Linked DNA regions of Homo sapiens. The protein of the gene in region 1 purifies or fractionates together with the protein of each later gene. This does not show direct contact. Each region holds a gene or a part of one and is shown in the gene's direction. Other genes may lie near its edges.

Region 1 (7,837 bases):
GTAGCTTTTTGGTAAATCTAAATTTGTTTCAGGAAAAAAAAAATCTGTTTTTTAATGCAACATTTCTAGGTGTGAGATCTTGCTGTTTCAACCCCATTGTGAGAAATGACCCATTTTGGCTAGCTATTATAATATTCACATTAAGAGAGTTTACCAAATGGTATCAGATTCAGAATATGTTTGTTGCTGGACTGCAGCAAACACAATAAGAAAACAAGCCAATGAATGAAAAACACACTTTTAAAACTCTGACGGCATGCTCTTCACAAAGAAAAAACAGAAAAAAAGACATGAACATTCTAGTCATAAAACAATGGTCCACAACACAAATAAAATAACCTGAAACATAAAATGTCAAGAACTGAACAAAACCAACTGAATCAACATATGATGAGATGATGACTTGGTGGGTTTCTGTGGCAGTCAATTTTTATGAGTCTGGTAAGGAAGGGCTGTCATTAGGTAAAGGTTGAATTGGTTCTGGTACATTGACTGAATTCATTCTGGTACATACCCAGATTTTAAGTCAGTTATCCTCAAACAGTTTGTAGCATCCAGTCCCACTTTTCCATTCCGGACCACGCTAGATATGAAAGGGGAGAGCATTGGAGATATTCGGTTCAAGGCCACTTCTGGGGACATTTTAACTTGACTTGTAAATCACCACTGAAAGCAGAAGGAAAGAATAATGATCAGGGCTTACAAATGGACTAGATACAACACTCTGCCTGAAAACTGGACAGCATACAGCAGTTCCTCTTGCATGAATAAATAATTCATTTCCCATCTCTAGCGCAGCCTCTTCCAATGATCCTCCAGAAGAAACCACCTCACTGCTGCTCAGCTACTCAGGACTGGGACTACATCACTGCTTTTCAGGAACAGAAGGAACTCCTGAAATACAATTCCCTTTTCCTTCCCAAAGCTGATTTCTACACTGCCACACTCTACTCAAAGTGGTCCCACTCTATCTCACTCGTTCTACCTTAGCTGAGTCCAAGGAGCCCTCGCTAACAATCCTCTATCCCAACACAAAAACACACACATCACTGAGTTAGCAATCTCTCCCTGTGTGTCCCCACAAGGAGTAAAAACTTGATGGATAATACCGTATAAAACTCTACAACAGGCTGACCTGCTTGAAGCTATTACTTACTAGAAATTATTTACTGCTGATATATCTTTCTTTTTTTTTCTTTTTTTTTTGCGACAGAGTCTCACTCTGTTGCCAGGCTGGAGTGCAGTGGCGCAATCTCGGCTCACTGCAAACTCCACCTCCCGGGTTCAAGTGATTCTCCTGCCTCAGCCTTCCGAGTAGCTGGGACTACAGGCACATGCCACCACGCCCAGCTAATTTTTGTATTTTTAGTAGAGACGGGGTTTCATCAGGTTGGCCAGGATGGTCTCAATCTCTTGACGTCATGATCCACCCACCATGGCCTCCCAAAGTGCTGGGATTACAGGCGTGAGCCACCGCACCCGGCCTACTGCTGATACACCTTTCTTAATACCTTTCCGTCCACAGTGTAGTATAACTACCTGCTTACGTGATCTCTTCCCTGCAGGGTCTATGTTTTGAATCCCCAGGGTTTAACAGAAATACCTGGCACATGCTAAACACTCAATAAACATTTTTTAATAAATAAATGAGTAAGGGGACAAAAGTTAGAGAAATATTTCAGTATGGAGAGAAGATAATGTGCCCCCTCCCCAGAATTTGGTAGGGGAATAGATATAACAAGATCCAAGGAAGAGATATAACAAAAATCTACTTGACAATTAAATTATGAAAACATACATCTATGCAGCTATCAAGCAACACAGACTAACATGGATCTTAAGGTATTTGACTTTAAGGCACTAAGTCCTTACACTTAAAACCACAAAAGTAGAACCAATACATCATATCTAAATTATCTGGAAACTCATAGGGCTGGGGGAGGGAGTACACGAATTCTTCTTAATAGATTTCTAAATGAAAGCCTCTTCCTTCAGAGGAAAAAGTCGATTCAAATGATCGTTTCCTTCCTCAATTTTAAAGAATAATGCCACATCAAAAGAAAATTAATTTCCAGCAAGTTACCAGTAAATGATGCTCTGGTTCTAGTTTTCATACATTATACCACATGAAAACTTACAAGTCCTTGCTAAAATAAATGTTGAAAATTAAAACCTGTTTCAGTTTATTATTTCAGATAGTAAGTAATAAATTTATTTGCTAATTTGATAGCTCAAAAAATAAGAACACTTTGACCCTATATAGTGATGACAACCAGAAGTATCTTCGAGATTAACACCTTTATATTCATACTTCAGTTCTAAAATCATCCTTTTTGTAAATATAAAACAAGCTCTTCTTCTGACCGCTTAACAGATGACCGCCCCCCGACTAGTCTCTCATTTCAAAGTAAGACTAAACATCTAACACTGTACTACCAATCATAAAAATCATGTACTTTTTTAAACATTTTATCACTTACAAGGAGCGTCCATATATATTACTGCAGTTGATCTTCACAAGCCTGAGGTAGTAAGGAATTTTAATTCCCAGTTTGCAGATAATATGGGTAATTATTATAATTTGATTCTGAACAGTATACTAATCCACATCATAATTTTGAAGCCTATTTTTTTCTATTCGCCAACATTTCCACCTTCATGTCTATGTCACAATTCTTGAAGGGATGCTTATCAAAGTCATATGCTAAGTACAAATATACCTATCTTATAAAAAAGCAAAAGGGTCTCACCTATATTACCGAATTGTTCTTCTGTGTTTTTCCCCACAGTACCCATTATTACTTTATCTCTTGCTTCTACAAAAGAAGGAAACAGAACCAACACATTCTAGACACCTATCTACCCATTATCAGGCATTATATTACTCATCTCTATCTGTAATTTCATTTACATTTCCCCAACTCTGTTCCCTGAGAACAATAATTGTTCCCATTTGACAAGTGGAAGCTAAAGAAACTTGACAAATAGAAAATTAAAGCTCAGCAAAATAAAATAACTTGTTGAATGTTGGAAGCTGGAGGATCAGAATCCAAATCCGGATTCTCCAAGTCCACTATACCCATCTTTCTCTCAAATAAACATTGATAACTTCTATCACCAAAGAGAAAAGCATCAAGGTGATTTTGTAAAGCGTATATCTTATAAAATGTGAACAGACAAAAAGTAAAAATTTAAACAAATGATTGCTTTACCACTAAAAACAAACTGGACTATTGCTGACCTACTGCTGAACCTGGTCTGAGTGATTCACTAGTCAAATGTTAAAGGGAACAGCCTTGCTCTAGAAGCCAAACCATACTAAGTGACAACAATACATTCTAATTCAGCAACGGTCGTGACTTTAGGATGACACCTGAGGGAATGAATTCTATTTCCAGGGCAGCCATAATACTATGTTTTAACAGTGCAAGGTTTCACGCAGTATTAAAATCTATTTCAACCATGAGGAGGTGTGACTTCTCTAAAAAAAAAGGGCGGGGGGTGGGGAGTGGAACACAATGACTCCAAAATCAGAAGTCACTTAGCCAAAAACACTGGTCCTTTGGTGCAGTGAACCGGGTACATGGACAGGGAGTCACCACCGGTAGTAACTCTTACGCATGGCAGCACTATAATACACCCCAGATATACAAATATTTACGGTGGTCAGAGTCCCCTGAATACTACTACTGCAATTTGTATTTCCTGATTTTGACGTATTGCAAAAGGAAAATGCAAAATTACAATTTTTGCAAGGGTCTGCTACCCCAAAATAAAGTTACAAAAGGTCCTTTGATGAGAGGCCTGGGGATTACAAAGACGTCTAAAGCACCATCCAGGTTCTTGCAATTAAAATGAGATGACAAACACGGAAACATGTGCCCTGCTGACGTCATGGAACGGAAAGGGGTGGCATCCTGCTGCGTCACGTCGACGTCATACAGCGCACGAGGGAAGTTACACTGGGGAAGCAATTTCCCCCAAGGGGCAACATTCGAGAAAAACAAGTTAGCTCAGACCCGAAGAATGACCACCCCACTCTAGGGGACGTCTTAAAAAGGGACACTCTCCCCTCTTCCAAACTGTATGATTCCCCTCATCAGGCAACAAGGAACTAATACTCGGGGTTTACAGGAACCAGGGGATGGGCCAGATATGGAGAAAGAGACGCCTCTGGCCTTGGGGGCTCGTTCTTGAGGGAATCAGCGTGATGGGGATGAGAAGGGCATCTTTGGAACGGGGGCCTTCTCCATAGGAAGAGGAGGCGAGTCCCCTGGCCATATTTAAACCACAGTTCTCCACGCCACCTGTGCGACTCGGGATCCAACCTCCCCGCACCAGCCCCAGTCCAGGTACCTGGAACTTAGTCCGATCGGTAACCGGCGACTACGTGGGGTACAGGTACCCGAGCGCGCCCCCGACAGACGCACCGACCTGCGCGCGCGCCGCGGGCAGGATGCGTGCGCACTCCCCGGACGTCCCGCCCCGCCCCCTCTGCGGCCCCGAAGCTGGGCGGCGTGCGCGCCCCCGCGCCGCGCCGAGCCGGGCGCTCGGAAAGGCGTCCCCGCGGTGCCTGACAGTTCCTTCCTCAGCGCCTGCCCCGTGAGTGACGAGGAGCGCGGAGTCTCGCCATATCAGGAGGGCCCTGTTACGTGAGGCTGTGCACCGAGACTATTCCAGGAAGAAGAGGGGACACTTGGTGGGCGGGGTGATTTCGGGCAGTCAGGTGGGCGACCCGCGTAGGCGTCTGAAAGGCCCGCGTCGTTAGGGAGGGCAGGAGTGGCGTCTCTGGTTACGGGGTCGGGCAAAGGGCAGAGGTCACCGTCCAGGTTGGACAGCAGCACCTTTGAGCGATGGCGGCGTCTGGGGAACCCCAGAGGCAGTGGCAAGAGGAGGTGGCGGCGGTGGTAGTGGTGGGCTCCTGCATGACCGACCTGGTCAGGTTAGTCCGGGGCCAGTTACTCAGTCTGCGGCTCGGGGGAGGAGGCGTGCCGTGCGCTATGCGCCCAGTGGAGCTTTTGGGCGCTGGGTCTCCAGGGATAGACAGTGCTAGCTTTGGGTATGAGCTGCAGGTTTTCGAAGCCTTCAGCCTACCTTCCTGGCATGAAAGAACTTGAGTATATAAAGGTAAATCTCAGGGGAGGGGACGTAATAGGCCAGGGTTTAGTGAAAGCTCTAATATTACTCAAAGCGCTCCCCAAAGACCTGCCCTCCAAAGACTTGCGCCCCCAAAGACCTTTCTTGGCCCGGCTGCTGAGCCTTTCCCCAAACGAGCCAGGGAACTTTGCCCACGTCATTTTACCTCCGAGAATGTGCCTACCTCACAGGGTTGTTGTGAGGACTAAATGAAGTAAAGTGTTTTGTCAAGCGTAACATTATCCAAATTGGGTATTATTCGTCTGAGCTTATTGTATAAAATAATGAGTTGAGCAGAAATCAAAAAGACTGTCACCTTTCACCATGTTGATTGTCGGCATTACTGCAGTATTTTATATTTACAGCGTATTTTTCAGCAAGCCAAGTATGAATCAAAATAAAAACATAAACACAGTATTTACAACCTCTGAAAACGATGATCAAATTATGATAGAAAATATGCCAAATGAAAATTGTTGAGTTAGGTCAGTAAGATTGAGTAGACAGATCCTTCTGATTTTTCTTTTTTTTAAATTAAGGTAGCTTTTCTGATTACAAAAGTAATGTATGTTCACTGTAAAATTAGTAATAAATTCAGATATTCCAAGAAAATCCTACCACTCCAATTACTGCAGTTCAGTCTTTTGATGAATATCTTTTCAGTTGTAATGCTACTTTGTGTTATAAAAATGATCAGGTATGCTACAGTAACACCTCATTCGTCCTGAAATGTTGCTTTTCCAAAGGGTAATAGAGAACGTGGAACTAAACAAAAAGGCTTTGGGACAATCAAAATAAGTCACCAAATTGCTGCACCAAACCACCTGTATTCTACTCAGAAAATAGGTCTAGGGTCTTCATGTAACCAATTTAACCTTACCTTAAAATATTTATAAGCTGTGTTACCAAATTTCCACTGAGATTAGAAAGGTGGGAGTTAGAGAAGAGACTGCTAGAGGCAGTTATAGTGACTGACGAAAACTTGAGGATGAGTAGGAGACTGTGTAACGAGAAGAAGCAACAAAAGAATTTTAAATACCAATGACCTTTATTTTTCCACAAATATTAGAACTATTCTGTCAGACACTGTGCCAAGATAAAAATACTTTCCTTTGGTGACAGAGCATAAAATTGAATCTAGTTGGAGACATTTGTTGAAGAGGCCTGTACATCTTTTTCTAGAGCAAGAGTAAGTAAACTTTTCTGTAAAGGGCCAGATAGTAAATATTTTAGGCTTTGCAAGCCGTATGTGGTCAAGGTCACATTTTTTTTTAACAACATTTTTTAAATGTAAAAACCATTCTTACCTCCCAAGCCTTACAAGAACATCCTGCAGGCCATAGTTTGCAGACATCTGTGTAGAAAGAACATTACTGTGTTTACAACACAATATAGCAATTGATTTTACTGGTGATGACTCTTTTCAAGAAAAGGTTATATGGTACTTACTAAATTTTGTATAAAAATAGAGCATGTATTTCACTTTAGAAAAAGTTTCATCAAAAATTCATAAAGTTGAGTTACATAAAGGAATAAACCTTCATCTAAAATGATTCATTCCATGGGAAATCCACCAAGCTAAATGTTTACCATGATTTTATGTGTGAAGTGGCAGAAGAGTAAGAAAACTAAAGTGGACCGGGCGCAGTGGCTCATACCTGTAATCCCAGCACTTTGGGAGGCCAAGGTGGGCAGATCACCTGAGTGAGGAGTTTCAGACCAGCCCAGCGAACATGGTGAAACCCCATCTCTACTAAAAATACAAAAATTAGCTGGGCATGGTAGCTGGCGCCTGTGATTCCAGCTACTCAGGAGGCTGAGGCAGGAGAATTGCTTGAACCTGGGAGGTGGAGGTAGCAGTGAGCTGAGATCGCGCCATTGCACTCCAGCTTGGGTGACAAGAGCAAAACTCCATCTCAAAAAAAAAAAGAAAAGAAAAGAAAATTTTCTCATACATCCTACCTGAATAAAAGTGTCAGGGTTAAAATTCAGAGCTACTTCCTTGTTACCAAACTGAGAGCTTTCTGTGAAGCTTGACCATCAGATACTAAAAATAACTATAGTACTTTGTGGGGTGGGGTAGGGGAGTGGTGTCAAAGGCCCATTTTAGCATCCGTCAGGGTTTTAAAGTCTTATTTCAGAGCTAGAAAAATTTGGAAATTATTTATTCTAGTCCTTCAGTTTTTAGATAAATAAACTGAAGCCCAGAGAAGAATTTCTCCTCTTGGCCATATTCTTTCCTTCATAAAATATCCAAGTTTCTTCTCTTCACATGAATCAGTAAAAATTTTACTGATGATTAGCAAAATCACTAGTAAAAATTTTACTGATGATTAGCAAAATCACTAGTAAAAATTTTACTGATGATTAGCAAAATCATTAGTAAAATCATCAGTAAAAAATCATTAGTAAAAACTGTATTCCCATATAGACTCTCTCTGCTAATTCCCACAGCTTTTCAACAAACTTTTCATGATCTCTCGTTACTTATGACACTGAAGATCTTTACAAAAATCTGCGTATAGGATTTTCATTTAAAACCCTGCATCTGTGATAAACTTGGGTGCAACTTTTCTAGTTACAGTTAGTATCATGATTATATTAGTTATCTACTGCTGCTGTAACAAATTACCAAATTTAATAATTAACGCAAGTTTATTTTTTTACTGTTCTGGAGGTCAGAAGTCTGATACAGGTCTCA
Region 2 (7,026 bases), on another chromosome or scaffold:
GATGACTCAGCTCAGTGGAGGTTGCTTACGAGAGCTGCTACTGTATCCTTAAGGGGCCATTGGTAAATTTTAGGACAAGTATCTTCAGGGAACCTAAAGGGAAAATAAATGTGTGTGTGTGTGTGTGTGTGTGTGTGTGTGTGTGTGTGTGCTCGTGTGTGAAGCCTTATTGAAGAGTAGCAATAGACTCTTTCTTACTAGGCGTAATCAAGTTGCCCTCCTGGGGAAACTCAAATGCAAAAATCCTCTTGAACTTTTCTGGGTAGCCTACTCTACTCTTTCCTAATAGTACCACTACAGTATACAGCACTGTAAAATTTTTTGCTTTAAAAGTTTGTTTATAAACTGGCATTTATAAGTATACTTTTTGAGCTGATTTAAGAATCAAGTTTTTTTTTCTAGGGAAATGCTTCTTTGTAATTATCTGTCACTAGCAAAATTTGTTTTAACATATATTTTTCTAAAAATATGATATGTAAACTGTGTTGTAGTTGTACAATTAAAGGTTTTTGGTCGAACAGTTATTACATGATGTAAAATCATGTGTAACACTTTAATATTAATTACATTGTAACCTAAAATTCATTTTAAAACTTTTTATGTGGCTTGAACAGGAATTTTCTTATCCAAAGCTTTGTATGTATGCTTTATTGCCTCCTTTGTTATTAGCATGGAGACCATGGGTTTTCTGTTATTGTTGTTTCATTTAAACAGTTCATGAATATATTAAGCACCTGAAAGAAACTGTTAGATGCTGTTAATAGGAAGAGGAGTTAAAAACCTCGTCCTTGCCCTTATCTACATGTGTACATGTAGAACTTACTGTAGTTCCCTAGATGTAGCAGGTGCTCAGGAAACATTTTTGTAGTAGTAAAAAAGAAATGTCAAACTCTAACTTGCTCTGGAGCAAATTCCGCTAGTAAACATTGTTTTTCAAGCTTCTTTTTTTTGCCTTGCGTCCTACTTTCTTAGGCCAAAATAATTCATCCACATCCCACCTTAGCTGTTTTTTTGTGTCAAACAAAAATCTTATTTGGAAATAGCATGTTATGCCAACTGTGTTGGGGCATCCCATACTGTATTGCATTAAATGAGGAGAAAGATGCAGAGGCCATGTGGGGAGGATTGTGATCCTGATAAGAGTGGGATGAGGGATAACAACAGAGAGACTGCCGTTCAATATTTCTTTCTTTCTTTTTTTTTGAGACGGAGTCTGGCTCTGTTGCCCTAGGCTGGAGTGCAGTGGCGTGATCTTGGCTCACTGCAAGCTCCGCCTGCCAGGTTCACGCCATTCTCCTGCCTCAGCCTCCCAAGAAGCTGGGACTACAGGCGCCCGCCACCACGCCCGGCTAATTTTTTGTATTTTTAGTAGAGACGGGGTTTCACTGTGTTAGCCAGGATGGTCTCAATCTCCTGACCTCGTGATCCGCCCGCCTCGGCCTCCCAGCGTGCTGGGATTACAGGAGTGAGCCACCGCGCCCGGCCTGCCATTCAGTATTTCTAATTAATTCAGATGGGGAAGAAAATCTCTAGTGACTATTATTTTTTAAACCTGTACCTGTGTGTCCCTCCAGTGAAGGCCATTTAAACCCCATTTTTGGTGAAGTAGTTTATGATTCATTTATGTGAAACTTTTAGTTACTAGAAACACTACAGGTATTTTGTACTCCTGTGATTTTTAAAAAAATGCTTCTTTTTTTCCCCTAGTCTCCTTATATACATTTGACAAAGCCAAACAGTGTATTGGCACAATGACCATCGAGATTGATTTCCTGCAGAAAAAAAGCATTGACTCCAACCCTTATGACACCGACAAGATGGCAGCAGAATTTATTCAGCAATTCAACAACCAGGCCTTCTCAGTGGGACAACAGGTAGTTTTTAATTTTCTTTCATTCCTTTAACTTTATAGGTATTCTAATTTCTGCAGTTTTCCAAAATTAATTCCACCTTTTAAAAAGTGAGAGGGGCTTTGCGTATCAACTCGTATATCCAAGGTGAGTGATAAAAGTGAGGGAGATGTATTTACTGAACTTCAAGGAGTCTGTTCAGAAAAATTCTAAAGTAGCTTTTAGATTAAAATGTCATGTATAATTATAGCAGCTTTTCCCTCAGCAAATTTGGGAACCCTGTGGACATATATATCTGAAATTCCTTTTTATATCATAGGACATTTGTTTTGCCTCTGGAATGTCTGTCTCTTTCACTAATATAGTTCTGTAGAAAATGTAGCTCTTGGCCAGACATGGTGGCTCATGCCTGTAATCCCAACACTTTGGGAGACTGAGTTGGGAGGATCGTTTGAGCCCAGGAGCTCAAGATCAGCTTGGGCAACAAAGTGAGACCCTGTCTCTACAAAAATTTTTTTAAAAGTAGCTGCGTGTAGTGGTCTCAACTACTCAAGAGGCTGAGGTGGGAGGACGGCTTGAGCCTGGGAGGTTGAGGCTGCAGTGAGCCATGATTGTGCCACGGCACTCCAGCCTGGGTGACAGATCGAGATTGTCTCAAAAAAAAAAAAAAAGTTCTTATTTTGGTTATGGGCTTATTTGAGAATCTTAAAAAACTGAATTCCTGCTAGATAGGAAAAGGATATAGTACATTATTTTAAAAAGAGTACTAGAATTGGAATGAACCTCAAGAGATTACCTTATGTAACTCCACATATACAAATGAGGAATTTTATTTTTTTATTTTTTAAAATTTTATTTATTTATTCATTTATTTTTTGAGATGGTGTGTTACCCTGTCATCCAGGCTGGAGTGCAGCGGCACCATCTCAGCTCACTGCAACCTCCGCTTTCTGGGTTCAAGTGATTTTCCTGCCTCTGCCTCCCGAGTAACTGGGATAACAGGCATGCGCCACCACACCCGACTAATTTTGTACTTTTAGTAGAGATGGGGTTTCACCATGTTAATCAGGCTAGTCTCGAACTCATGAGCTCAGGTGATCCATCCGCCTTGACCTCCCAAAGTGCTGAGATTACAGGCATGAGCCACCATGCCCAACCATTTTTTTTTTGTATTTTTAGTAGAGATGGGGTTTTGCCATGTTGGCCAGGCTGGTCCTGACCTCAAGTGATCCTCCCACCTCGGCCTCCCAAAGTGCTGGGATTACAGGTGTGAGCCATCACGCCTGGCCAAATGAGGAATTTAAGATCTAAAGAAGGTAAATGGTATGCCCATGGCTACACAGCTAAGGGACATAGTTGAGATAAGAATTAATTAAACACATATTTGATAGTACCTAGTGCCTAGTACCAGTCACTGTTTTAGACACTGCAGATCGGCAGTGAACAAAATAGATATGATCCCTGCTGTCATAGAACTTACTTTCTAGTTGAAGAAAACAGAAAATAAGACAGGAATACCATGTACAGTTAGGTCTCTGATGAAAGTAGATCAGGACAATTCACCAGAGAGCTATTGCGGTGCTGTTGTGTATTGGATGACCAAAATTGTGCTCAGATTGCCTAGCTAAACTTGATGGTTTTTACCTTTGCTTTTAGTTTTAGTATCCTAATAGAAAATGTTTAGGAGAATGTTTAATAGAAAATGCTTTGGTATTTATAATAATTTAAAACTCAGTAGCATGTAGAAGTCAGTAAATCCATGAAAGAGAATCTTTCGTAATTCAGAGAAGAAGTAAATATCTTACTCCAGATCACTGTCCTTAACTGTTTCTTCTCATTTGTGGTATCTCGTAGTAGCAGAATGGACAGACAGCCCAACCTGTAATATTTACCATTATACCCCAGCACATAGAAGAAGACCAAACTTTTAGAAGGGACTCAGCAAAGATTTGGTGAATGAGTAATTGAGCATTCAGAAGCTGTCTCTGCACTTGTAGGGCAAGCATTTTGTACTAGTGATAGAAAAGCAGGAATTGTAGAGTCACAGACCCAGGGTTGACTTCTGGCGCTCTCATTTACTGTGACTTTGAGCCTTGTTGCATAGCCTGTTTCTGCATCTCAGCTTCCTCACTAGTAAAATGGAGTCGTAGTTTCTGCTTCCAAGAGTGTTTGTGAATATTATATAACTGGCTGTAGTGTTTGAATAAAATACTAAGAAACTTTATTCTTTGTTAGAAATAGTAAATGTGGTACTCTTGAATTACTTTAGGTGGCACTCTGACATTTAAATTAGATATTTTTTATCCATGTGGAAGAAATTTTAAACATGAGTTTTGCAGTCATTTTGTAAACACTGATCGTAAGTGCTAATTCCCTTTTCTTCATTGGCTGTGAGTAGTTTGTTTGAGGAGCAGATTGGAGAGGAGTATATAAGATAAACTGGTTTTCTGCATTTGAAAAACATTGGTGATGATCTGAGGATCAAACTATTATATTATGAAGTGATTTTTCTCCCCTTACCTCTTTTCTACATAGCTTGTCTTTAGCTTCAATGAAAAGCTTTTTGGCTTACTGGTGAAGGACATTGAAGCCATGGATCCTAGCATCCTGAAGGGAGAGCCTGCGACAGGGAAAAGGCAGAAGGTAGCTTTTATTTCTGATCATCTTTACTAGATCATCTTTATAATGTAATTTGTGCAGATTGATTATAATTTTCCTATCTGTTGCTTAGTGATTTTTTTCATATTGTGTACCCTTTTAAGATAGTAGGGAGAAAAAATTGCTTTCATAGCCATCATTGTTATTAAAATATAGCTTAAAATGTATTTATTTGCAGACCTAATATTAATGTAAAATGTAGACGTATATGTACATATAATTTGCTTGAATGCAGATATTTATTGTAAATAAATAATAAGAAACGCATTATTGGAAAGATATAGGCATGGAAATAAGGCATGTAAGAATTGTAGAAGAAAGTTATGAGAAAAGTAAAAGTAGCTCAGATGATAGTCTGGAAGGTTTGCTTTGCCCAGAGAGACCTCATTTCCCCCTCACTTTTGGCCTTGCTTTGAGAAGTCCAGAAGTTTGCTATTAGACTACTAATTATTGTCTTTCTCTACAGATTGAAGTAGGACTGGTTGTTGGAAACAGTCAAGTTGCATTTGAAAAAGCAGAAAATTCGTCACTTAATCTTATTGGTAAGATTTACAGTTTTTAGAAGATTTGAAATGAAGTGGGCCTATTTCTATATGTAACTCAACTACAGTGATTTCCAAATGGGGAAAGGAAAGAGGGGCATCTCTCTTGAGAGAGTTTATCACAGAAGCATGGGGTATTTCCTGTTGGTCAGTTTGCTGATGAAAACGTTTAAAACCTTCATCTGGATCAACTTTGTCCAATAGAAATAGAGTGTGAGCCACATGTGTAATTTTTAATTTCCTAGAAATTGCACTAAAATAAGAAACAAATTAATTTTTTAACTTTTAATTTTGAGATAATTTTAGGTTCACAGATTTGCAGAAATAGCTCAGAGAATTTCTGTATGCCCTTTACCAGCTTACCCTGATGTTAATGTCTTATTTGACATTTTCAAAAGTACAATGATAAGAAATGAACATGGTTTCATTTCTGCTAACTAAACTACAGATTTTATTGAGATTTCACCAGTTTTTCCATTGTGTCCTTTTCTGTTCCAAGATCTAATTTAGGATCCCATATTGCATTTAGTTGTTCTGTCTTTTGAGTTTTCTTCAGTCACTGACAGTTCCTCAGACTTTGTCTTTTATGACTTTGAGAACTGGTCAGTTATTTTGTAGAATGCCCCTCACTTGGTTTTGTGTTAAATGAGATAGCATCATCATTTCTTTTAGTGATTAAGTGATGAATGTGCAGGTCAAGTCTTCCCAGCAGATTCATGGTTCAGTCCTACTCTTGTACTCTAGCACAATTTTTGTCATATTAAAACAATTGCAGCTTATTCTCTGAGAATAGTAACTCACCAGAATAATGTGACATTAACTGGGCATTAATTCTTATTTTTGGTTGATTTAACTATGTTGATGTCTACCCTACTAGAGAGTAGAGGGTTTTCATTGGTTGCACATCATCATGTCCAGGGTCACTTAACAGTCTTTGAGTGCGTGGCCTTTATTTCCTGGTCCACAAATTACCATTCCCCCTTATTGTTTTTTGTTAATTATAAAATATTTTATTTATAAAATATGGATAGGCATTCGAAAACAATTCACACACTGTAAAATTTGGTTCTGTTTTCATAGTTTTGTAATTTGCTTTTTTTGCTTAGCATGTTTCAAACATCTTAAATATACACCTATAACATGATTTTTAATGCCTGTATGTCATTTTATGAAGGTAGGATGTATTTTCCTGTTATTGATCTAGTACATTTATGAAGTGACTTCTTTGTATTTTATTTTTGTGTACCTTTTGTTAAGATATCCCAAGGGAGTTGCATAACTTTCATAGGTATTTCTAAGTAATCCATGGGAAAAAAATTGTGTAGTTAATTGGCATTCAGTAAATTTTGCCCACAAGAGGGCAGTAGAGTGTAAGAAAAAAATATTTTTCATCGCTTTCCAAAGGAAATCTTAAGGCCTCAAAACTCTAACCATAAAATTATCATCTAGTATAAACTTTTAAAAAGCGTTACTTTATTTTTAATTGACAGATAATAATTGTATATATTTATAGGGTACAATTTGATATTTTAATACATGTATACATTGTAGAATGATCAAATCAGCCTAATTAACATATCACCTCAAATATTTAGCATTTCTTAGGATAAACTTTTTTTAATGTGACATTTTCTTCCCTGGTTTTATAAAAACCATATTATTACTTTATTTTTTGTTTATAATAGAGCATACTAAGGTACTTAATTTATTCTTTGTTTGAAATAGTAAATGTGGTTCTCTTGAGTTACTTTAGGTGGCACTCTGACATTTAAGTTAGATAATTTTTGTCCTCTTGAGAATTTTTAAACATGAGTTTTGTAATCATTGAAGTCTTTAGGATGATTTCAGACTTTTGTGTCCAAGTGAAGAGAAAGCAAAGAAGACATCAAACTTGTTCAGTATATTTCCTTAGGCTGAGGGGTTATATGCCCAATTACCTGTATAAGCTTAATCTGGATAAATATATGTATTTTAAA

Evidence for each region.
Region 2: the proteins of RBKS (region 1) and NSF purify together in Homo sapiens (affinity purification with mass spectrometry; 3 studies listed by BioGRID and IntAct, with this or other methods). This does not show direct contact.

Annotation. Positions count from the first base shown.
Region 1 is NC_000002.12:27,887,362-27,895,198, reverse strand, and holds the start of RBKS (ribokinase), read left to right. Parts: upstream 1-4,811; 5' UTR 4,812-4,853; coding exon 4,854-4,942; exon of another isoform or gene 4,943-5,743; intron 5,744-6,443; exon of another isoform or gene 6,444-6,490; intron 6,491-7,837. Other genes in the region: BABAM2 (BRISC and BRCA1-A complex member 2), read right to left, coding at 515-642. UniProt on the Homo sapiens protein: Catalyzes the phosphorylation of ribose at O-5 in a reaction requiring ATP and magnesium. The resulting D-ribose-5-phosphate can then be used either for sythesis of nucleotides, histidine, and tryptophan, or as a component of the pentose phosphate pathway.
Region 2 is NC_000017.11:46,635,669-46,642,694, forward strand, and holds part of NSF (vesicle-fusing ATPase), read left to right. Parts: intron 1-1,707; coding exon 1,708-1,874; intron 1,875-4,385; coding exon 4,386-4,493; intron 4,494-4,974; coding exon 4,975-5,050; intron 5,051-7,026.